7 linked regions of the Homo sapiens genome follow. The protein of the gene in region 5 interacts with the protein of the main gene of each other region in a biochemical or structural test. Each region holds a gene or a part of one and is shown on either strand. Other genes may lie near its edges. The genes, in order: MRPL3, GRPEL1, SAE1, FYTTD1, ERCC6, RHOG and EIF3L.

The links.
Region 1: the proteins of ERCC6 (region 5) and MRPL3 form a complex in vitro, tested with the Homo sapiens proteins (one large-scale study listed by BioGRID).
Region 2: the proteins of ERCC6 (region 5) and GRPEL1 form a complex in vitro, tested with the Homo sapiens proteins (one large-scale study listed by BioGRID).
Region 3: the proteins of ERCC6 (region 5) and SAE1 form a complex in vitro, tested with the Homo sapiens proteins (one large-scale study listed by BioGRID).
Region 4: the proteins of ERCC6 (region 5) and FYTTD1 form a complex in vitro, tested with the Homo sapiens proteins (one large-scale study listed by BioGRID).
Region 6: the proteins of ERCC6 (region 5) and RHOG form a complex in vitro, tested with the Homo sapiens proteins (one large-scale study listed by BioGRID).
Region 7: the proteins of ERCC6 (region 5) and EIF3L form a complex in vitro, tested with the Homo sapiens proteins (one large-scale study listed by BioGRID).

What each region holds. Positions count from the first base shown.
Region 1 is NC_000003.12:131,468,472-131,471,971, reverse strand, and holds part of MRPL3 (large ribosomal subunit protein uL3m), read left to right. Parts: intron 1-692; coding exon 693-801; intron 802-2,198; coding exon 2,199-2,276; intron 2,277-3,500.
Region 2 is NC_000004.12:7,061,730-7,065,064, reverse strand, and holds part of GRPEL1 (grpE protein homolog 1, mitochondrial precursor), read left to right. Parts: exon of another isoform or gene 1-182; intron 183-841; coding exon 842-1,004; intron 1,005-2,598; coding exon 2,599-2,680; intron 2,681-3,335. UniProt on the Homo sapiens protein: Essential component of the PAM complex, a complex required for the translocation of transit peptide-containing proteins from the inner membrane into the mitochondrial matrix in an ATP-dependent manner.
Region 3 is NC_000019.10:47,137,335-47,140,834, forward strand, and holds part of SAE1 (SUMO-activating enzyme subunit 1), read left to right. Parts: intron 1-3,500. UniProt on the Homo sapiens protein: The heterodimer acts as an E1 ligase for SUMO1, SUMO2, SUMO3, and probably SUMO4. It mediates ATP-dependent activation of SUMO proteins followed by formation of a thioester bond between a SUMO protein and a conserved active site cysteine residue on UBA2/SAE2.
Region 4 is NC_000003.12:197,756,383-197,759,882, forward strand, and holds part of FYTTD1 (UAP56-interacting factor), read left to right. Parts: intron 1-43; coding exon 44-175; intron 176-3,500. UniProt on the Homo sapiens protein: Required for mRNA export from the nucleus to the cytoplasm. Acts as an adapter that uses the DDX39B/UAP56-NFX1 pathway to ensure efficient mRNA export and delivering to the nuclear pore.
Region 5 is NC_000010.11:49,532,622-49,536,121, reverse strand, and holds part of ERCC6 (DNA excision repair protein ERCC-6), read left to right. Parts: intron 1-3,143; 5' UTR 3,144-3,157; coding exon 3,158-3,500. UniProt on the Homo sapiens protein: Involved in repair of DNA damage following UV irradiation, acting either in the absence of ERCC6 or synergistically with ERCC6. Involved in the regulation of gene expression.
Region 6 is NC_000011.10:3,828,719-3,830,959, reverse strand, and holds part of RHOG (rho-related GTP-binding protein RhoG), read left to right. Parts: intron 1-2,241.
Region 7 is NC_000022.11:37,855,919-37,859,418, forward strand, and holds part of EIF3L (eukaryotic translation initiation factor 3 subunit L), read left to right. Parts: intron 1-2,760; coding exon 2,761-2,822; intron 2,823-3,500. UniProt on the Homo sapiens protein: Component of the eukaryotic translation initiation factor 3 (eIF-3) complex, which is required for several steps in the initiation of protein synthesis.

The sequences.
Region 1 (3,500 bases), on a different chromosome or scaffold from region 5:
CTGCCTCCATACCTACTAATAGTCCATTGGCAGACCTCAGGTCCTTCGTTAATAGCTGGAGACATCCTTGCAGCATGTCTCTCCATAGGACAGTTTACACTAGCTGTGGAAGTTGGCTTCCTTCAGAGCCTGGCAAGCAAGAGAGTACCAAGATGGAAGCTACAGTCTCTTTGTAACCAAATCTCAGAAGTGACATCTCATCACTCTTGCCATATTTTATTTATTAGAAGCAAGGGACTAGGTTCACCCAGACTCAAGGGGAGGGAATTAAACAGGAGCATGAGTACCAGGAGGTGGTGATCTTTGGGTTCCATCTTAATGGCTGCTTGCCATATCTGCTATAAGTACTTTGAAACTTCTAGAGCTTTTCCATTTTTACTGTGTCATCTTCACAGAATTAGGATGATAAAACTCCTGTTCAGATAAAATTCCCTGTGCTTAGCTTGCTGGTGTCTCACAATCTTGAATTAATCATTTTATATAGAATTAGACTCCAGGAAGGGGTGCAGACCAAGACAGAGATAAAGGAATATTTATTTGCAGTTTTAGTTGTATAGCCTTTTCTAGTTATTTAAATAAGAAGCTTTGTTAAAACTCTAACAAGAATGTGTACAGTTGGTACTAGAAAGTGTACAATTGGGAATGGTCTATGCTCTTTTCATTATGTAAATTCTAACGTTTGTTTTGTTCAGTATTGGTAAAGGTTTTCAAGGTGTCATGAAAAGATGGGGATTTAAAGGCCAGCCTGCTACGCATGGTCAAACGAAAACCCACAGGAGACCTGGAGCTGTTGCAACTGGTGTGAGTATAACTAGTGAAGCTCTTTTTAATGCTAAATATTCAACTTCTGCACATGTAGTCCTCAGTCCGTCCTTGATATGAAGTCACATAATTTTAGTCTGACACAAGGGGACTCCATGTACTTGTCACCCTTTTATGGATCCTTGCCCCTCACTCATTTCCCAGAGCCAGACTAGAATTAGTTATATTCCACAAGGTTAGCTGAGCATCTGTAGTTTGGCTGTATATACCCTGAGTCTAAATTTAAAATGTACTTTGTGCAAATGTTGAATTCAGTTTGTCTTTTGAATTAGTATCAGTTAACAATTCTGAAATAATTTTCTGTGAATTGTAGGATTGAGTAGATAAGTAAATGTATTGATAATGGAGCTAGGTTTCTCACTGTTGGAAAAGGGCGTTAAAGTATGAAAATGGGAAAATTAAAATGAACCCTATAGTGTTGAATTCAAACTATAAGTATGCATATACTGTTTGGTGGGGGAGGGGAATGCATGCATGCACACAAGGAAAAAATGTAGCACACAGAGAAACAGAGGGGTGTGTGTGTGTGTGTCTTAGTTCTGTCTACTGGAACATTGTAGTCATATATAACGGAATATATTTGTAGAATGAATAAGAGTGATACTTAGTCTGTAATACTCAGAATTGTCTTTTAAGCCTGTTGGTTACATATTAAACATATCTAATGCCATGATGAGGTACTTCCACTGAGAGTTTCACCTGTTAATGTGAGAGCAGCTGATGGAAAAGTGTTTATATTGTGAGAATTCATGTGTTATAAGAAGCTGTTCCATTTTAGTCATAATTCAGATTTGCTTCTTTAGATGTAGAACTATTACCCGTTATCAGAGCCAAAATCAGAGACTGTTAGATTTATGTAAATCAGAGAAAACCAGGGCTAGACAAACTAGTATTCTGATAACTAACTCTGTCCTTGAATAATTTTGGTCAAGGAAAGTAACATCTAAAGCAAGGAGCAGTAGGACCATTCCAGCACCAGTGGTATGGATGAAGTCCATTAAGTCAGTTAATACAGAAGATGAGTTCAAAACAGGCCTGGCAGTCCATTTTTTTTCTTTGAATGATGGTGTCGGTGTGTCTGTATGCCCTTGTCCTTTTTTAATTCTTAGCCAGTATTAGGTCCGTTGTTGCTGAGTTTTTCTCCTAAATCTGCTTCTTAGTCTGTATTTATTTTATCATTCTAGTCTCATTAGAAAGGAAATCCTCTAGGAGTAAATATGCCTAAATCCATATTTAGTTCCTTACTTGGGACCTAGCAGAATAGGGGAAAAATAAAACATTTTAATAATTTATATTTTTAGTTTACATTGTGGTTTGATCAGTGCTGTTTAAAATTGATAGTACTTAAAAGTGTTAACTTTAGTTTTCTCATTTAGGATATTGGCAGAGTCTGGCCTGGAACTAAAATGCCTGGAAAAATGGGAAACATATACAGGACAGAATATGGACTGAAAGTAAGTGTTACAAGTGGTTCTTTTTAGGAACAGCTAAATTGTCTAAATGCAAAGGCAGCAGAATATGTATTTAATCTGTGTCTGTACCATTGTTCTAAGAGGCTTTAAAATTATTGAGGAAAAGAGGATACATGAATTGTGTGTGTGTGTGTGTGTGTGTGTACACTCTAGTTGTAGTAATGGTGGTAGTAATGATAGGGTATATTTCAGGCCATGAAAAGTGCAGTCATTAAAGAGACAAAATTAGTAGTCCACTCTTGGACCTGGAAGATTTTTACAAGATATTGTTGCATGAAAAAAGTAAGATTCAGAGCATTCAGTATAATACTCTTTATTGAGTAAAAGATTTAACAAAAGCTCTCTACGTGTGTATGTTGCTGTGCCATCATATAATCACAGAAGAGTGGAAGGGTATATACCAGGTTCTTGGATTATATATCAAATGTGTGTGTGTGTGTGTGCGTGTGTGTGTGTAAGTGTAAGGAGGAGAGTGGGAGGCAATCAAAATAGGAGGAAACAATAGCACTACAAAAGGATTATGATATACATCCGTTTTTATAAAAAATGTCTGTGTATATTTAAAAGAGAAGTTGAATTCAATCTCTACCAATGAGAAATGTACCTAAGTAAAACTGAGTTATACTATAATGGATGCTGTATAATTATATTTCTGTTAAACAACTAATGTTTATATTTGTTTGCATGTATGTTTTAAAGTGTAGGAAGTACAAAGAAGAAAATAAGCCACCAATAAGAACAATACCCAAAGACAATCACTGGAAACATTTTGGTGCATATCCTCCCAGTCTCTATTCTGCATACCTTTTATATATAAATTTTGACCAGGAGAAGTTTTCAAATTTTATATAATTAAACCTAAGATTTTTTTTACCCCTTCTATTACATTTATACTTATCAGAGACCATCTATTTGCTGTATTTTCTTCGTGTGTGTGATTTCAATTTTTGTAATATTTAATACTTATTCATTATTAGATAGGAGCCATGGGTCAAACTTGATTCCTTATCCAAATATTTTATTTTCTCAGTACCATTTTTTGACCAATCATTCTCTCCCATTTATGTACGTTTTTTCTCCACATGAAGATTTTTTGAGGACCATCTACTCAGCCCACTTACTTTAGAAATTAGAATCAGTGAGGTTGTGGCTTCTCCAGCCTCTAGTTACAGCAAGCTAGTATTAACTAAAAATAAAATAAAATTG
Region 2 (3,335 bases), on a different chromosome or scaffold from region 5:
CCTTAGAATGGAAAGAGGAGGTTAGTACTGTTCTGTACCAAGTACTGTAACTTGGCACATTGACATGTAAGTTTAGGCATGTACTTACAGAAGATCTTATAAAAAAGACAGGCACAGTGGCTCATGCCTGTAATCCCAGCACTCTGGGAGGCTGAGGTGGGAGGAACACTTGAGCCCAGGAGTTCGGGGTTACAGTGAGTTATGATTGTGCCACCATACTGTAGCTTGGGTGACAGCGAAACCCTGTCTCTAAAAATACATGGAGAGGCCAGGCGCGGTGGCTCACGCCTGTAATCCTAGCACTTTGGGAGGCCAACGCGGGCAGATCACTTAAGGTCAGGATATCAAGACTAGCCTGGCCAACATAGTGAAACCCCATCGCTACTAAAAATACAAAAATTAGCCGGGTGTGGTGACGAGCAACTGGGGAGGTTGAGGTGGGAGTATCCCTTGAACCCACGAGACGGAGGTTGCACTGCACTTCAGTTTGGGTGACAGAGCAAGACTCTCTCTCTCAAAAAAAAAGAAATACATATAGATATAGATAGATGTATAGATAGATAGATATATAGAGAGAGACCAATCCTGTCTCTAAAAAAATATATATATGTTTATCTTAGATCTAATAAAGGCACATTGTATATGACTTACAGCTTTTATATTTACTAATATAGCTTCTATATGTCACGTACAGTGTGCCTTTATTAGATCTAACAGAAATGTTTTCTCCCCAAGTAATAGTAAATAGTTTGAAGCTATTTTAAGTTTCTAAAGTCATACATCTGACTTTAATAAGCACAAAAACTAAGTCTTCGTTTCTCACGTGTGGACTTCCCTGTAGGCCATCTCCCCGGTTGTTGTGCACAGCCACGAAACAAAAGAACAGTGGCCAGAACCTGGAAGAGGACATGGGTCAGAGTGAACAGAAGGCAGATCCTCCTGCTACAGAGAAGACCCTCCTGGAAGAGAAGGTCAAGTTGGAGGAACAGCTGAAGGAGACTGTGGTGAGGACTGTGAGGCTCCTGTGGGGGCGGGCTCGGCTGAACTGTTTCTCTCCTGGGCCACATAAAGGTTCCAGGTTTCATTGGTGACAGACTAAAGCCAGAGTTAAGCCGTTGTCCATGGCCTGCAGTGGGCCCAGGTGGCAAGTTACTGCCAAAGCAAAGACTAAAACCCAAATCCTGTGCAACTCTGGTTCTGGCAAGAGACTAATCTTTACACGCTGTTATTTGTCATTGAATGAAAACTTAAAATCATCTTTACAAATGAGGAATGCTCAGTATGGTTGTTTAGGCTGGGACTTAGGAGAGGAAGCAGAAAATTGCAAGTACAAGAGTTGGGAGCAGGAGTGTGGTTTTATGTGATGCTCTCATAGGCAGGTAGGAGTTTTATGAACTAGTAACATGGATTATTACTCCATGTGAAAACACATAGGTGGCACAAATCAAGTTCTTTAAGGATTTGAGAAAGACATCAAACCCTGAGTGCTGGCACCATTCCAAACCCGTTACATATGTTAATCCTGGCTGCCAGGTGCGGAGCCAGGGCTCGAACTAGAACCCCCTGGACTTGGAGCTCTTGCTCCTTGCCACTGTACAGTGATTACCTGAAGACTGAAAATGGATGCAGTATAGAGGCCCCCACAGAGCAACTTAGTAAATGTTAAAAAGAGAAAAGCTAGCTGGGCGCAGTGGCTTACCCCTCTGATAGCACTTTGGAAGGTTGAGGCAAGAGGATTGCTTGAGCCCAGGTGTTCAAGACCAGCCTGGGCAACATAGTGAGACTCCATCTCTAAAAAAAATTAAAAATTAGCTGGGCGTGGTGGTGCACTCCTGTAGTCCCAGCAACCCAGGAGGCTGAGGTGGGAGAATTGCTTGAGCCCAGGAGGTTGAGGCTGCAGTGAGCCGAGATTACACCACTTCAACCTGGATGATAGAGCAAGACCCTGTCTCAGAAAAAAAAAAAAAAGGCTCAGATGAGTGAGCTTACCGGAAGGTGGTGAGACATGAGGAATATACTAGAACTCAGATGATGATTACACAAGGAATGTTTGAACTGAGCCACCTCTGGGTAACACAGCATAGCAAAAGATCATGAGTGCAGCTTTTATTAAGCTTTCATTAAGCTGCCCTCCTTAGTCACATCTCAAAGGCAGTGATATTACTTCTGTTTTGACTTGTAGTTAGTTACACAGCCGTTTTCCAATCAAGCTCGCTTTCCTATGACTTTGTTCCATATTAATATAAATCTCCCGGCCAGGCATGGTGGCCCACACCTGTAATCCCAGCACTTTGGGAGGCCGAGGCGGTCGGATCACAAGGTCAGGAGATGGAGACCATCCTGGCTAACACGGTGAAACCCTATCTCTACTAAAAATACAAAAAAATTAGCTGGGCGTGGTGGCAGGCGCCTGTAGTCCCAGCTACTCGGGAGGCTGAGGCAGGAGAATGGCGTGAACCCAGGAGGCGGAGCTTGCAGTGAGCTGAGATCATGCCACTGCACTCCAGCCTGAGCGACATACAGAGCAAGATTCCGTCTCAAAAAAAAAGATATATATATATATATATATATATAAATATCCCTTTTTTTCTCTTTTAGGAAAAATATAAACGAGCTTTGGCAGACACTGAGAACTTACGGCAGAGGAGCCAGAAATTGGTGGAGGAGGCAAAATTATACGGTACTTTCAACATAACATGGTGTTGATTCCGGAAAGAAGATAATGGGGTGGGGAAGGGGAAGGCCATGCATACGGAAGTGTCAGAGAGCAAGGCTGTGGGGTGGGGGGTCCAGCTGTTGCATCCCCTGCATTTTTTTTTATGATGGCTCAACAGCAAAGGTGTCTGGAGGAGCAGAAATCAAGTAGCTGAGACTAGCATGAAGAATTGTAAATAGGTGTGTCCTCCCCCACGCAGAGACCTTGGTGGGAACCTGCAGCAGGTCAGCCTCTGATGCCCATCCCCTTAGCCCTCCGGAAGTAACACTGGCATCACTTCAGAACTCCCAGCATGCTATATGCATTGCCACCTTTGGATGTTTTTGTTACTGTCCTTCCCATTTTACAGTTGAGATCATTGAGGTTTAGTCACCTGCCACACATCACAAAGCTGGTACGTAACCCCAGGCTCCCAGCTCCACAGGCTGGTTGTTTGAGTGCTGGCTCTGGATCTCTGCGTGACTGACAGTGGGTATTAGAGATGTGGAACCTAAGGCTCGAGGGAGGGTAAATGGCCTTGCCTGGGTCAGACGGTGAGAGGCCACATGGAAACTAAGAGCTAGAGTCTCTGTCGCATTCACAGAGACTGAGGCGCTCATTGAAACACTTTTTTTCCTGG
Region 3 (3,500 bases), on a different chromosome or scaffold from region 5:
CCAAGGTCACACTATCGCACTCCAGCCTGGGTGACAAGAGCGAAACTCTGTCTCAAAAATAAATAAATAAAATAAAATAAAGTAAAGAAGCAGCTTCCTAGAGCAGATTTGGTTGCTTAAATTGAGGCCAAGTTTCTGGAGTTTTTATTGATAGTTGACAATTACAACTAAAATTTTTTTTTCTCGCTCTGTTACCCAGGCTGGAGTGCAGTGACGCAGTGACGTGATCTTCAGCTCACTGCAACCTCCACCTCCCGGGTTCAAGGGATTCTCCCGCCTCAGCCCCCAAGTAGCTGGGACCACAGGCGTATGCCATATCACTCAGCTAATTTTGTGTGTGCATGGCGTATGCCGTAACACTCAGCTGATTGTGTGTGTGTGTGTGTGTGTGTGTTGTTTTTTTTTTTTTTTTGTGATGGACTCTCACTCTGTCGCCCAGGCTGGAGTGCAGTGGCACAATCTTGGCTCACTGCAACCTCCGCCTCCTGAGTTCAAGCGATTCTCCTGCCTTAGCCTCTGGAGTAGCTCGGATTACAGGCGCGTGCCACCACACCTGGCTGATTTTTATATTTTTAGTAGAGACGGGGTTTTACCATGTTGGCCAGGCTGGTCTCAAACTCCTCACTTCAAGTGATCTGCCCACCTCGGCCTCCCAAAGTGCTGGGATTACAGGCGTGAGCCACTACACCCGGCCTATGTGTGTGTATTTTATTTTTTTATTTTTTTGAGACGGAATTTCTCTCTTGTTGCCCAGGCTGGAGTGCAATGGCGTGATCTAGACTCACTGCAACCTCTGCCTCCCGGGTTCAGGCAATTCTCCTGCCTCAGCCTCCTAAGTAGCTGGGATTACAGGCGCCTGCTACCGCGCCCAGCTAATGTTTGTATTTTTAGTAGAGACCAGGTTTCGCCATGTTGGCCAGGGTGGTCTTGAACTCCTGACCTCAGGTGATCTACCCGCCTCAGCCTCCTTAAGTGCTGGGATTACAGGCATGAGCCACTGCGCCTGGCCAGAAGTTACCTTCTTTGTGCCTGTTTTCTCAGCTGCAAAAGAGGGGTAACAAAGTGCCAGCCCATTAGATTGTCATGGGAATTAAATGACATAATACATACAAAGAGCTTAGTAGAACAGTGCTTGGCACATAGTAAGTGTTAGATAAATGTTGGCCATTATTATTTTATTATGTACCAGATTTCTATAATTCTGCTGATGGACACAGGTTTGTTTTGGTGTGTCTATTAATTCACAGCCATTTGAGTAACAGTATGTCCTAAATGCCAAGGAAGTTACTGGTTCTAGTGATACAGTGGTTTCTGGAGTTTACATTCTAATGGAGGAGGGGGCAGTAAACATATAAACAAGTAGTGTAGCTTAGCACAGTGGTGTGTGGCTGTGATCCCAGCTACTGGGGAGGCTGAGGTTGGAGGATCACTTGAGCCAGGCAATTGAGACTAGCTTGGGCAACTTAGTGAGGCCCCATTTCAATCAAAACAGTGGGCAACACAGACCCCATCTTAATCAAAACAAAAACAAGTAGCATAATTCGAGATAGAAGAGGATGTGGACCTATTTTAAATTAGGTGGCCAGTATGGACTTCTCTAAGGAGGTGACAATTGAGCTGAGACCTAAAGAATGTGTCCCTTAAGAAGTTGAGGGAAGAAGCAATGGGAAGCACTAATGCCAAGGTCCTAAGGTGGGAGCAAGGATGGGAGCAAGGATGATGTTCTCTAGGATCAGCCTCCCGAGTAGCTGGGACTACAGGCACGTGCCACCACGCCTGGCTAATTTTTGTATTTTGAGTAGAGATGGAGTTTCACCATATTGGCCAGGCTGGTCTCGAACTCCTGACCTCAAGTGATCCGACCGCCTCGGCTAATTTTGTGTATTTTTAGTAGAGACGGGGTTTCACCGTGTTAGCCACGATGGTCTCCATCTCCTGAACTCATGGTCCTCCCACCTTGGCCTCCCAAAGTGCTGGGATTACAGGCGTGAGTCGCCGCGCCTGGCACACCCAGCTAATTTTTTTTTGTTTTGTACAGATGGAGTCTTACTTTGTTGCCCAGGCTGGTTTCGAACTCATGGGCTCAAGTGATCCTCATGCCTTGCCCTCCTAAAGTGCTGGGATTACAGGTGTGACCCACTGCGTCCAGCCTGCTGTAGTTTTGTCGGAGAGAAACGATGGTGGCTCAGACTAGAGTGGTGTTTGTGGAACTTGAGGGAAGTAGATGGACAATGCTGCTGTGAATGTGTATCTTTTTTTTTTTTTTTTTTTGAGACAGAGTCTCACTCTTGTCACCCAGGCTGGAGTGCAGTGGCGCGATCTCGGCTCACTGCAAGCTACACCTTCCGGGTTCACACCATTCTCCTGTCTCAGCCTCCCGAGTAGCTGGGACTACAGGCACCCGCCACCACTCCCGGCCAATTTTTTTTTTTTTTTTTTTGTATTTTTAGTAGAAACGGGGTTTTACCATGTTAGCCAGGATGATCTCAATCTCCTGACCTCGTGATCTGCCCGCCTTGGCCTCCCAAAGTGTTGGGATTATAGGCGTGAGGCACCGTGCCCTGCTGAATGTGTATCATTTTTGTGCCCACTTGGGTATTTCTTTTTTTTTTTTTTTTTTTGAGACGGAGTCTCGCTCTTTCGTCCAGGCTGAAGTGCAATGGTGCGGTCTCGGCTCACTGCAACCTCCGCCTCCCGGGTTCAAGCGATTCTCCTGCCTCAGCTTCCCGAGTAGCTGAGATTACAGGCGCCTGCCACCACTCCCGGCTAATTTTTTTTTTTTTTCTTTTTGAAACAGACCCTTGTTCTGTTGCCCAGGATGGAATGCAGTGGCGCCATCTCGGCTCACTGCAAACTCCACCTCCCGGGTTCACGCCATTCTCTTGCCTTAGCCTCCCGAGTAGCTGGGACTACAGGCGCCCGCCACCATGCCCAGCTAATTTTTTATATTTTTAGTAGAGATAGGGTTTCACCTTGTTAGCCAGGATGGTCTCGGTCTTCTGACCTCGTGATCTGCCTGTCTCGGCCTCCCAAAGTGCTGGGATTACAGGTGTGAGCCACCGTGCCCAGCCCACGCCCGGCTAATTTTTGTAATTTTAGTAGAGATGGGGTTTCACCATGTTGGCCAGGCTGGTCTCGAACTCCTGACTTCAGGTGATCTACCCACCTTGGCCTCCCAAAGTGATGGGATTTGTAAACCCAGCACTTTGAGGGAGGCAGAGGCAGGAAGATTGCTTGAGCCCAGGAGCTGGAGATGAGCCTGGGCAACATAGTGAGACCCTGTGTCTACAAAAAAAAAAAAAAACCCATAAATCAGCCAGGTGCAGTGGTGTGCACCTATAGTCCCAGGACTCAATAGGCCGAGGTGGCGGGATCACTTGAACCTGGGAGGTTGAGGCTGCAGCGAGCCCTGATCTTGCCACTGCCCTTCAATCTGGGTTCACAGAATGAGACCCTGTTTCAATAAAACAAAACGTAAACATGGTATTTGGTGTTGATGG
Region 4 (3,500 bases), on a different chromosome or scaffold from region 5:
AGTTAAGTTAAAATGAAAATAATTGACATTTCCTCTATCATAGATGATATCATCAAGTTGAATCGAAAGGAAGGGAAGAAGCAGAATTTTCCAAGACTAAATAGAAGACTCCTCCAGCAAAGTGGTGCCCAGCAATTCAGGATGAGAGTGCGATGGGGAATCCAACAGAATTCTGGTAAGTTTTGAAAGTAAGCTTTAATGGAAAGCTGTTATTTGTGTGTTCATAGTGTACTGTCTTTAGCATATGCTTAACGTGGAGGAATGCGTCAGTACTCTTTGTGTTTTGTGTTTCCTCTATGCCTAGGTTTTTGTTTAGATCTAAAACCTGGTAAAAATTTCAGTAGCCTTCAATAGACGTAACACTGTCTCTTAAACGTTGTAAGTCATTTAAAAGTAACTTCAGTTTATACACAGTCTAAATTATATTCAGAGTTTAGAATTGCAAAGGATCTTATATATCATGAGCTCCTATCTTCATCCAAGTGAGATGTTCCTTTAACAGTCTGTCTAATGGATGACTAACTCCAGCTTAAATATATTCAGTGAAAGAGCATACTACCTCACAAGCATGAGCCACTGTGCCTGGCCTCTTAATTTGGATTAAAGCATGCCTATCACTTCGGTAAAGTTATAGAAAGCAAATTCTCTTTTGTATATGAGAACTCTTTAAGTATGTGGAGACTACTGTTACATTCTGCATAGAAAATGACCTCCAGACTCCTTATCTTATCATCCAAGAACTTTAGGATTTGTTAAATCTTCCAAAGTTGACACTCAGAAATGAATGCTTTAGATATAATGTGGAACTCTACACATTTAGTTATTTTTGATAATCTGGAAGCTTATTTATAACCATCTTGATTGAAGGCAGTAATTGAACACTAATATATATGGCTTGTTAACTTCTTTATCAGCAATATCAGAATTTTAGAATAAATATTTGTTGAAATAAAAGAACTAAATCTTTTTCAGATATGTAAAAATATGTTTGACAAACTAACTTCCAAATTGATTTTTATTCTATATGTTGAAAAACATAAAAATAATCTCCAGTAGGTTGAACATAATTAGTTCTGTGTTTACAGCTAATATCCCATTATATCCTCAAAATATGTATAACTGAAGCTGAGCACAGTGGCTTATGCCTGTAATCCCAGAACTTTGGGAGGATCAGTTGAATCCAGGAATCTGAGACCAGCTTGGGCAACACAGGGAGACCCTGTCTCCACAAAAAATTTAAAAATTAGCCAGGCGTGGTGGTACCTCTTTCTGGTCCCAGCCACTCAGGAGTTTGAGGTGGGAAGATGGCTTGAGCCTGGGAGATCAAGACCACAGTGAGCCATGATGGCACCACAGCACTCCAGCATGAGACTCTGTCTCAAGAAAAGTACATATAACTGAGATTGGGCCCTTAAAAAAAATTATTCATCTCTAATAATTTTTTGAATAGTTGAACCTAAGGGAGTAAATTTCATGACAGGTATTTAACTGTAGCAAATGAAGTTTAGTTCCAGTGATTTATATTTAAATTTTTTTTTGAGACGGAGTTTTGCTCTTGTTGCCCAGGCTGGAGTGCAAAGGCACGATCTTGGCTCACTGCAGCCTCTGCCTCCCGGGTTCAAGCGATTCTCCTGCCTCAGCCTCCCAAGTAGCTGGGATTACAGGCATGCGCCACCATGCCCAGCTAATTTTGTATTTTTAGGAGAGACAGGGTTTCTCCACGTTGGTCAGGCTGGTCTCGAACTCCCAGCCTCAGGTGATCCACCTGCCTCGGCCTCCTGCCTCAGCCCCACAAAGTGCTGGGATTACAGGCGTGAGCCACTGCGCCTGGCCTAAATATTTCTTATAAATGTTATTGAACATACTATATATTTTTGTATTATTTGTTTTTAAAATAACTGTTGAGAGTTCATAGAACCAGAAATATATTTATTAATTAATGTTTATCAAATATTTAACATGAATATATTTCAGTGTTAAATACTTGATAGATACCCTAAACTGATTGGGTCCTAGGGGGTACATAAAGATGTGGTCTTCTACTTCAAGGAATTAATTTCCGGTGTTAGAGATAAGATGGAAAAGGTAGTGTGGGAGAAATGTTGTAAGAGAAATTCAAATAGTATTATAGGACTTTAGAGATTTTGTACTAAGAAGATCAGGAGTGATTTAATGGATAAGGTGAAATATGATCTGGTCCATGAAGTGTCAGAAAAGCTTTCCTTTTATGGATGTTATGATCTGAGCCTTGAAATAAATGATATCTAGGGGCAGCTTAGGATCTCCTAAGATTGAGCTTGCCCTTGTATGTTTATTGCTTACATGTGACACGGGCTAAAATAGAACAGCTGCCACTGTTACTGAATGTACAGAGATAGAGGATTGTCTTAAACTCTGATTGGCTAGGAAAAAGTTCAGATTTCCACGTTGTAATGTCAATGAGGATGTTAGCTTGAGGTAAGAGAAATAAGTAGGACAGAGGAGCTCTTTGCAGATCCGCGGTATGATTTCTGATGGCTGAACAAGTCAATGAATGAAATCTTTAACTTCGTGTGTGAAAAATAATTTAGGCACTCAGTAAATACTTGGAGAAACAACCCAAATGTTCTTCAGTGGTAGAGCGTATAGAGTTGTTCTTCAGTGGTAGAATGTATAGAGTTGTTCTTCAGTGGTAGAAAGTATAGAGTTGTTCTTCAGTGGTAGAAAGTATAGAGTTGTTCTTCAGTGGTAGAATGTATAGAGTGTTCTTCAGTGGTAGAATGTATAGAGTTGTTCCTCAGTGGTAGAATGTATAGAGTTGTTCCTCAGTGGTAGAATGTATAGAGTGTTCTTCAGTGGTAGAATGTATAGAATTGTTCTTCAGTGGTAGAAAGTATAGAGTTGTTCTTCAGTGGTAGAACATATAGAGTGTTCTTCAGTGGTAGAATGTATAGAATTGTTCTTCAGTGGTAGAATGTATACAGTTGTTCCTCAGTGGTAGAATGTATAGAGTGTTCTTCAGTGGTAGAACGTATAGAGTTGTTCTTCAGTGGTAGAATGTATGGAGTTGTTCTTCAGTGGTAGAATGTATAGAGTGTTCTTCAGTGGTAGAATGTGTGGAGTTGTTCCTCAGTGGTAGAATGTATGGAGTTGTTCCTCAGTGGTAGAACGTATGGAGTTGTTCCTCAGTGGTAGAACGTATAGAGTGTTCTTCAGTGGTAGAGCGTATAGAGTTGTTCTTCAGTGGTAGAACGTATAGAGTTGTTCTTCAGTGGTAGAACGTATAGAGTTGTTCTTCAGTGGTAGAACGTATAGAGTTGTTCCTCAGTGGTAGAACGTATAGAGTTGTTCCTCAGTGGTAGAACGTATAGCGTGTTCTTCAGTGGTAGAACATATAGAGTTGTTCTTCAGTGGTAGAATGTATAGAGTGTTCTTCAGTGGTAGAACGTATAGAGTTGTTCTTCAGTGGTAGAACGTATAGAGTGTTCTTCAGTGGTAGAACGAATAGGGTGTTCTTCAGT
Region 5 (3,500 bases):
TTTTCGAGACAGAGTTTCACTCTTGTTGCCCAGGCTGGAGTTCTGCGGTGTGATCTCAGCTCACTGCAACCTCTGCCTCCTGGGTTCAAGCGATTCTCGTGCCTCAGCCTCCCGAGTAGCTGGGATTACAGGCATGCACCACCACGCCTGGCTAATTTTTGTATTTTAGTAGAGATGGGGTTTCACCATGTTGGGTCAGGCTGGTCACGAACTCAGGTGATCCACCCGCCTTGGCCTCCCAAAGTGCTGGGATTACAGGTGTGAGCCACCAAGCCTGGCCTGAAACTTCTTTTACCAAGGTAAATGGTGACCCATTGGTATCCAAATTCACTCAGCCTTTTCTCATTCACTGGACGCTCTTCCTCCTTTTTTATTATTAGAAGTTTTCCCCAAACTTCTTTATTTTTAACCTTGTCTTTACACTACAATACTATTGCTTTTTGATATTATTTTACAGAAATAGAAAAATGGTTACTTAATATTTTTGGTTGAATTGGCATCCTTTTTTCTTAAAAAGAAATCCTCATGTGTGTACAAATAAGAAAAATGAAAACAGAATTGTTAACTGCCAGCTAGTACAGACACTCTGAGCTGGAATCCTGCTCTCTCTGTTGGAAAGTGAGGTGAGCTGAGCCTTCCTCTTGAAAATAATCAGCAGGCCCCAAAAGAAGGAACTTTCTCACTGTGTTGTTCACTTTTTAACCTTTCCAATGTTAGCCTCCTCGTACCCTCCAAAATGACCTTAGGTACCTGTCAGAGCCTTGGGAACCCTGGAACTGCTCACTCTGCTGATGTGTCCACATGTCACCCAGACTTTCCCTTGAGCTCAGATTTGCATTTCTGACTGCATGCTGCAAATGGTACTGATTACATGTAAGCTGCTTGCCAGTCCTGCTTCCTATCTGCTTCCTTTTTGAGAGTCTCATTTTTGTGACTGAATTCACTGGTGACTCATTTGTCCAGACCAAACTTTTTATTATTTTAGACTTAGCTCTGAACCTCACTTCCTTTCAGCAGATATTGAGCACCTCCTATATATCAGACCATGCATGGCCCATGTGTTCAAATCTCAGTTCCTCCGTGATATTTCTTGGGCCCCAGACACCATATATAGTTCGCTCGATGCTCGTGTGACCTCTTGTCCGTGTCCCGGGCTAGCTGACCTGCCCTGCTCTGTTGTTAACTGACATGCTGCTGCTCCAGTGGATAGCCACTCGGGTGTAGATGATGCTGAATTCTTTGTATCCCGGTGCTTTATTGCTGGGCTTATTTTACTTAATAAGGGATGAGTGGGGCCCACTGGGGGAACTTGTCATTTAACAGAAAAGTTACAGTGCTCAAAGAAATCTTATTCACAGTTAAACAAAAAGCAAGACTGATTTTTGGTTATCGTTTTGCTTTTTAATATATTTATTAGATGTGATAGTTGTATAGGTAATATAGTGAATATATTCTCCTTAAAGCAGCAGGTCCTGAGTATGTGGAGTACAATGTGAACATTCCCCCTTATTTTTCCCTGTGCTTTCTCTTCCCCATCCTGATTTGCAGGCTTAGTTTGTATCCTGCCAGATCATTCTGTGTGCAGGATAGATACTTTTTTCAGCATAAGTGTGTTCATACCATGAATTTTTTCACTTAACATGGCTTTTATATCAGTATACAGAATATACTTAGTAGTTACATTAAACTATTAAAAATGTGCTGCACTAAACATTCTTGCACCTGTGTGTGACTAGTTCTCTGGAATAAATACCTAGAATTGCTTGACAAAGGTCATGTGCCTTTAATTTAATAGATATTGCTAAGTTGTCCCTACAAGGGGCTTTACTAATTTATATTCTCAGCAGCACTATGTGAGGGGGGATCCTTCTCCTTGTCTGTATTGGATTTATCTATCAGGCTTTGAATTCTTGCTAACCTGATGGGTGAGAAATTATACTGTGTATTAAAATGGAGTTTTTTTTTTGTTTTTTTTTTTTTTTTTTTTTGAGATTGAGTCTCACTCTGTTGCCTATGCTGGAATGCAGTGGTGAGATCTCATCTCACTGCAACCTCCGCCTCCTGGGTTCAAGTGATTCTCCTGCTTCAGCCTCCCGAGTGGCTGGGATTACAGGTGCTCACCATCATACCCAGCCAATTATTGTATTTTTAGTAGAGATCGGGTTTCACCATGTTTGCCAGGCTGGTCTCAAACACCTGACCTTAAGTAATCTGCCCGCTTCAGCCTCCCAAAGTGTTGGGATTACAGATGTGAGCCATCGTGCCCAGCCTATTTTTGAGAATATTTTAATTAATCTTTTAAAAAAACTTTAAATTTATTTTACAAGGTCTTGCTCTTTTGCCCAGGCTAGAGTGCAGTTGTGCAATCATGGCTCACTGCAGCCTCCATCTCCCAGGCTCAAGTGATCCTCCTGCCTCAGCCCCTTGAGTAACTGGGACTATAGGTGCACATCACCAGGCCTGGCTAAGGTTTTAAATTTTTAGTAGAGACAAGGTCTCATTATCTTTCCCAGGCTGGTCTCGAAGTCCTGAGCTCGCTGTGTTTCCCTGGCTGGTCTCTATCCTCCCGCTTTGGCCTCCCAAAGTGCTGGGATTACAGGACTGAGCCACGTGCCTGGCCTAATTAATCTTCTGAGCTTCTGATTTGTTCAAAGCTCCTATTTACTGGATAGGTATTCAGCCTAGGAGTTTCTAGTCTCAGATTCACACAGAAGCTCTTTCCTAACATCGCTGTTCCTATGCATTACAGTTGATCTTGCCACTATATTATAAATCATTTGTGTCATAATGAAATGAAGATGCTAACTTGGAAAACAGCAGCCAAATGACTTCAGCTGTTTTGAAGAATATTCCATGGCCATCACCCCAGGATTTTGGTGGCTGGCTTTCTTAGCTGGCTGCCTAAATGTCCTTTGTTGATGATACTGCATTTCTTTTTCTGGTTAATTTTTCTTATTTATTATCAGAACTCAAGAAGATACGTTGTCCCTTTTTAGTAAATTAATACTTGGAAACTTGAATTTATGTAGTTGGAAGATTATTACTTGATCTTTTGAGAAATCAGTCTGCTCTAATTATAAAATATTTAAGAACTACAATGAATCCTATATAACGAAAAGGCTTATAAATTTTTTTCCTTTTAGGTAGTCTGTAGAGAATGCCAAATGAGGGAATCCCCCACTCAAGTCAAACTCAGGAGCAAGACTGTTTACAGAGTCAACCTGTCAGTAATAATGAAGAAATGGCAATCAAGCAAGAAAGTGGTGGTGATGGGGAGGTGGAGGAGTACCTCTCCTTTCGTTCTGTGGGTGACGGGCTGTCCACCTCTGCTGTGGGGTGCGCATCAGCAGCTCCGAGGAGAGGGCCAGCCCTGCTGCACATCGACCGACATCAGATCCAGGCAGTAGAGCCTAGCGCCCAGGCCCTTGAGCTGCAGGGTTTGGGTGTGGACGTCTATGACCAGGACGTGCTGGAACAGGGAGTGCTTCAGCAGGTGGACA
Region 6 (2,241 bases), on a different chromosome or scaffold from region 5:
ATTGACCACCAAGAGTCCCCCATGGCCAAGAGGAAGTAGCTGATGAGAGAAGGATCCTTGCCATAGCAGTGTAAATAATCACAGGGTTTCTGGAAGCTGTGTTCCAGAACTCAGAAAAGCAGTTCATCTCCCCGAGGCCCTGTGACCTGCAGAGGTAACCAGATGTTGGCTGGAGCTGGGACTCCTCATACTTACCCCACTCATAAATACAGCAGTCCATTTATTGGGCACTTGCTATGTGCCATACCTCATGCTGGACATCTTCTATACATTATTAACTCTTACTTTTTATTTTTTTTTTTTTGAGACAGGGTCTTGCTCTGTCGCACAGGCTGGAGTGCAGTGGTGTGATCATAGCCCACTGCAGCCTTGACCACCCTGGGATCAAGTGATGCTCCCACCTCAGCCTCCCGAGTAGCTGGGACTACAGGTGTGTACCACCACACCCTGGTAATTTTTTCATTTTTTGTAGAGTCAGGGTTTTGCCATGTTGCCCAGGCTAGTCTCAAACTCCTGGGCTCAAGCGATCTACCTGCCTCATTCTCCCAAAGTGCTAAGATTACAGGCATGAGTCACCGTGCCTGGCCTCATTTCATATTCTGAGCAATTGTAATGCAATAGGCAAGATTATCCCCATTTTACAGATGAGAAAATTGAGGCTCAGGGAACAAATATATTGCCAAGATCACATATAACTAGTTGGTGGAGCTGTGATTAGAATACCTGCGAGTCTTACTCTAGCATCTATGTTCTTAATGATGGTATTTTCTATCCAAGAGTCTGGAAGTCTCTAAAATCTTTCAGAGGCACATGCCAGGATCTCAGGAAATGGACAGAAGATTGAGGGGAAAGTCAAGTTTTTGTCTTACTCTTGACTTCATCCTTCCTAGTTGGGCCTGAAAGATTTGCTCCAGGCCGGGCATGGTGGCTCATGCCTGTAATCCCAGCACTTTTTGGAAGGCCAAGGCGGGCAGATCACAAGGTCAGGAGTTCAAGACTAGCCTGACTAACATGGTGAAACCCCGTCTCTACTAAAAATACAAAAATTAGCTGGACGTGGTGGCATGCGCCTGTAATCCCAGCCACTCGGGAGGGTGAGGCAGGAGAATCGCTTGAACCCGGGAGGTGGAGGTTGCAGTGAGTCAAGATTGCGCCACTACACTCCAGCCTGGGCGACAGAGCAAGACTCCGTCTCAAAAAAGAAAAAAATTTGCTCCACCCCACCAAGGGCCTTGAGAGAAGATACTAATGTCTGGGAGCCTCAGCCTCTACCTCATTCATCATAACATACCCAGACCCCAGTCCAAATCCCAGGTCCAACTGAATCTCCAGTATTCCCCTGCATTGAATTGGCAATCTGAGTGTACATGGCCAGATAGGGTTTTCAGTACTTACAAGAATGATGGGGTGGCCAGGTGTGGTGGTTCACGCCTGTAATCCCAGCACTTTGGAAGGCTGAGGCAGGTAGATCACCTGAGGTCAGGAGCTTGAGACCAGCATGGCTAACACGGCGAAACTCCATCTCTACTAAAAATATAAAAATTAGCCGGATGCAGTGGCACCTGCCTGTAGTCCCAGCCACTCGGGAGGCTGAGGCAGGAGACACTTGAACCCAGGAGGCGGAGGTTGCAGTGAGCTGAGATCACGCCACTGCACTCCAGCCTGGACGACAGAGTGAGACTCCATCTCAAAAAAAAAAAAAAAAAAAAATTTCCCCATTGCCAGAATACCCTGGATTGGGATAGGGCAGCTCTCTAAAGAATTGAGCCCCTTACTCAGCAGGTTTCTTAACTGTGCCTTTGGGTTTGTACTCAGTAGCCAAGATACCAGGTTTGGAGAGGGCAGGGTGGGCCCTGAGTTGAGAGAGGTTCTACTTATGGCTGCATCACAGAGTGACCTGGGACAGCTGTCCTGTGCCAAAACACTTTCCAGTCTCCTGGTGGAAAGGGTCCATATTTAGTAGAGGATCTAGTAGATCCCTAAATTTGTGCACTCTCCTTTTGTGTCTGTATAGCCTGGAAAAAAAAAATAGCTAATACTGGCCAGGCGCAGTGGCTCACGCCTGTAATCCCAGCACTTTAGGAGGCCAAGGCGGGCGGATCACGAGGTCAGGAGATCGAGACCATCCTGGCCAACACGGTGAAACCCCATCTCTACTAAAAATACAAAAAATTAGCCGGGCGTGGTGGTGGGTGCCTGTAGTCCCAGCTACTCGAGAGGCTGAGGCAGAATGGCGTGAAC
Region 7 (3,500 bases), on a different chromosome or scaffold from region 5:
GCTCTCTAGCTTCCCACCTTTGACTTTCTTAGATGATGTCCTTTATATATGGGTGAGGTAGGCAAATCCAACTTCATTATTTTGCTTGTGGATATTCAGCTACCCTGGCACCAATTTATTTATTTATTTATTTTATTTTATTATTATTATTTTTTTTGAGATGGAGTCTCGTTCTGTCTCCCAGGCTGAAGTACAGTGGCACAATCTTGGCTCACTGCAACCTCCGCCTCCCAGGTTCAAGCGATTCTCCTAGGTTCAAGCAATTCTCCTACCTCAGCCTCCCGCGTAGCTGGGATTACAGGCGCCCGCCACCACGCCCAGCTAATTTTTGTATTTTTAGTAGAGACGGGGTTTCACCGTGTTGGCCAGGCTGGTCTCGAACTGCTGACGTCAGGTGATTCGCCCACCTCAGCCTCCCAAAGTGCTAGGATTATAGGCATGAGCCACCGCACCCAGCCTGCCCAGCTAATTTTTAAAAATTTTTTGTAGATACCGGGTCACACTTTGTTGACCTGGCTGATCTTGAACTCCTGACCTCAAGTGATCTTCCCAGAGTGCTGAGATTACAGGCATGCACCACTGTGCCCAGCCACATTGTCTTGATTACTATATTTTTGTAGTAAGTTTTGAAATGGGGAATTGTAGGCCGGGCGCAGTGGCTCACGCCTGTAATCCAAGCACTTTGGGAGGCCGAGGCGGGTGGATCACCTGAGGTCGGGAGTTCGAGACCAGCCTGATTAACGTGGAGAAACCCCATCTCTACTAAAAATACAAAATCAGCCGGGCATGGTGACACATGCCTGTAATCCCAGCTACTTGGGAGGTGGAGGCAGGAGAATCACTTGAACCCGGAAGGCAGAGGTTGCGGTGAGCCGAGATCGCGCCATTGCACTCCAGCCTGGGCAACAAGAGCGAAACTCCGCCTCAAAAAAAAAAAAAGAAAGAAAGAAATTGGGAATTGGTAAGTCCTCCAACTTTGTTCTTTTTTTTTTTTTCCCCAAGATTGTTTTGACTATTCTGGGTCTCTTGGATTTGCTTATTGATTTTAGGATGGACTTGTCAATTTCTGCAAAGTAGCCAGCTGGGATTTTGAGAGGAATTGCCTAGAATCTGAAGATCACTTTGGGGAGTATTGCCGTCTTAACAGTATTAAGTCCTCCAGGCCAGGCGCGGTGGCTCATGCCTGTAATCCCAGCACTTTGGGAGGTGAAGGTGGACGGATCACGAGGTCAGGAGATCGAGACCATCCTGGCTAACACGGTGAAACCCCGTCTCTACTAAAAATGCAAAAAAGTTATCTGGGCAGGCCGGCATGGTGGCGGGCACCTGTAGTCCCAGCTACTCGGGAGGCTGAGACAGGAGAATGGCGTGAACCCGGGAGGCAGAACTTGCAGTGAGCTGAGATTGCGCCACTGGACTCCAGCCTGGGCGACAGAGCAAGACTGCGTCCCAAAAAAAAAAAAAAAAAAAAAAACCAATATTAAGTCCTCCAATCTATGGACATGGGATGTCTTTGATTTATTTAGGTCTTTGGTTGCGTTCACCAGTGTTTTGTGTTTTCAGTGTACAAGTCTCTCATTTGTTTTGTTATAGCTAACGTTTTTTTGAACACTTAACTCCTTTTTTTTTTCCCCCTAAGATGGAGTCACGGAGTCTTGCTGTCTTGCCCAGGCTGGAGTGCAGTGGCGCGATCTCTGCTCGCTGCAACCTCTGCCTCCTGGGCTCAAGCAATTCTCCTGCCTCAGCCTCCCGAGTAGCTGGGATTACAGGCACCTGGCGGATTTTTTGTATTTTTAGTAGAGATGGTGTTTCACCATCTTGGCCAGGCTGATTTTGAACTCCTGACCTCAAATGATCCACCCGCCTCAGCCTCCCAAAGTGCTGGGATTACAGGCATGAGCCACTGCACCTGGCCTGAACATTTACTCTCAATTGACTAAACACAGAATGAGTTCAAAACTCATTCTGTGGCTGGGTGTCGTAGCTCACGGCTGTAATTCTGGTACTTTGGGAAGCTGAGGTGGGAGGATTTCTTGAGGCTGGGAGATTTAGACTAGCCTGAGCAACATAGGGAGACCCCCTTCTCTACAAAAAATTTTTTAAAAAAATTATCCAGGCATGGTGGCACATGCCTGTAGTCCCACCTACTCGGGAGGCTGAGGTGGAAGGATCACTTGAGCCCTGGAAGTCGAGGCTGCAGTGAGCCATGATCATATCACTGCACTCCAACCTTGGCAACAGAGCGAGACCCTGTCTTCAAACAAACAAACAACATTCTGAAATTAATATTTTCTTTCTTCCTTTTTTTTTTTTTTTTTTTTTTTTTGACATGGGGGTCTCACTGTGTTGCCCATGCTGGAGTGTAGTGTGATAATGGCTGACTGCAACCTGTGCCTGCTGGGCTCAAGCGATCCTCCCACCTTAGCCTGCCGAGTAGCTGGGACCATGGGTGCGCACCACCACGCTTGTCTAATTACTCTTGTGTGCTGGTTTTTTTATGCACTTGGATGGCAGAAGTCTCTAAATGGTGAAAGGAAATAGATCTGAATGAGATCTTAATCTCATCGACAGAGATTGAGGTTGATGGAGTCAAATGAGAAGTGGATTTTCTCATTGCATGTATTCTTGGGGCATATGCATAGCAATTTAGATGTTGTTTAGTCTTCAGAATTACCTTTATTCCTCCCCACCAAAGAGCTAAAGCTGCCAGGATACCCCAGTTTTATGGTTAGTGAAGCACCCTTCTGCCATCTCTTTCAGATGCTGTCTTCCTGATTTTATACAAAGAATTATACTACAGGCACATATATGCCAAAGTCAGTGTAAGTATTTAAGTGTCGCAGTTTTTTTTTTGTTTTTGTTTTTTTAACTCTGTGCTGTTTTTGTCCCTAGAACACAGTCATTTGTTTATATTGGTTCAGTGTCTGGGCATGATTGGCATGTTTTTGAGTTTTAAGAAGCGGTGGAAGGAACAGTTTAACCCAGAAAGCTGTTCAGACACACTAACGCTATATAACCTATGCATTCTTTTAAATTTCTCTGTCCCCACAATTCTCCTGGACTGGGCAATCACCCATGCACTGGTTATAGGCTGCCAGCCTCATAGGATATTTCCAGGTACCTGCTGCTGCTTCTGCTTGGGGTTCTTTTTCCCTTCAGAGCATTGAGCCTCTGTTTCTCTGAGATGTACATAACACTGTCACTGTATGCCAAGCACAATGCTAGGCACTTAGCACACATCTTCACATATCTAATTCTACTATCAATCGTGCAAAGTTGGTACCCGAGGTGCCAAGAGGTTACCTTTTCTCAAATTTATCCAGCTAGTAAGTGACAAAACTCCTTGAATCTAGACCAGCTTGTTATAACACCAGTATTCTACACATTATCCCAACTTTGAGCACTTGCTAGATTCTGTTCTTCCCGACTTCTAAATTATAGAGTACGTGAAGTTTCTTTTTTTTTTTTTTTTTTTTTGAGAGAGAGTGAGTCTCGCTCTG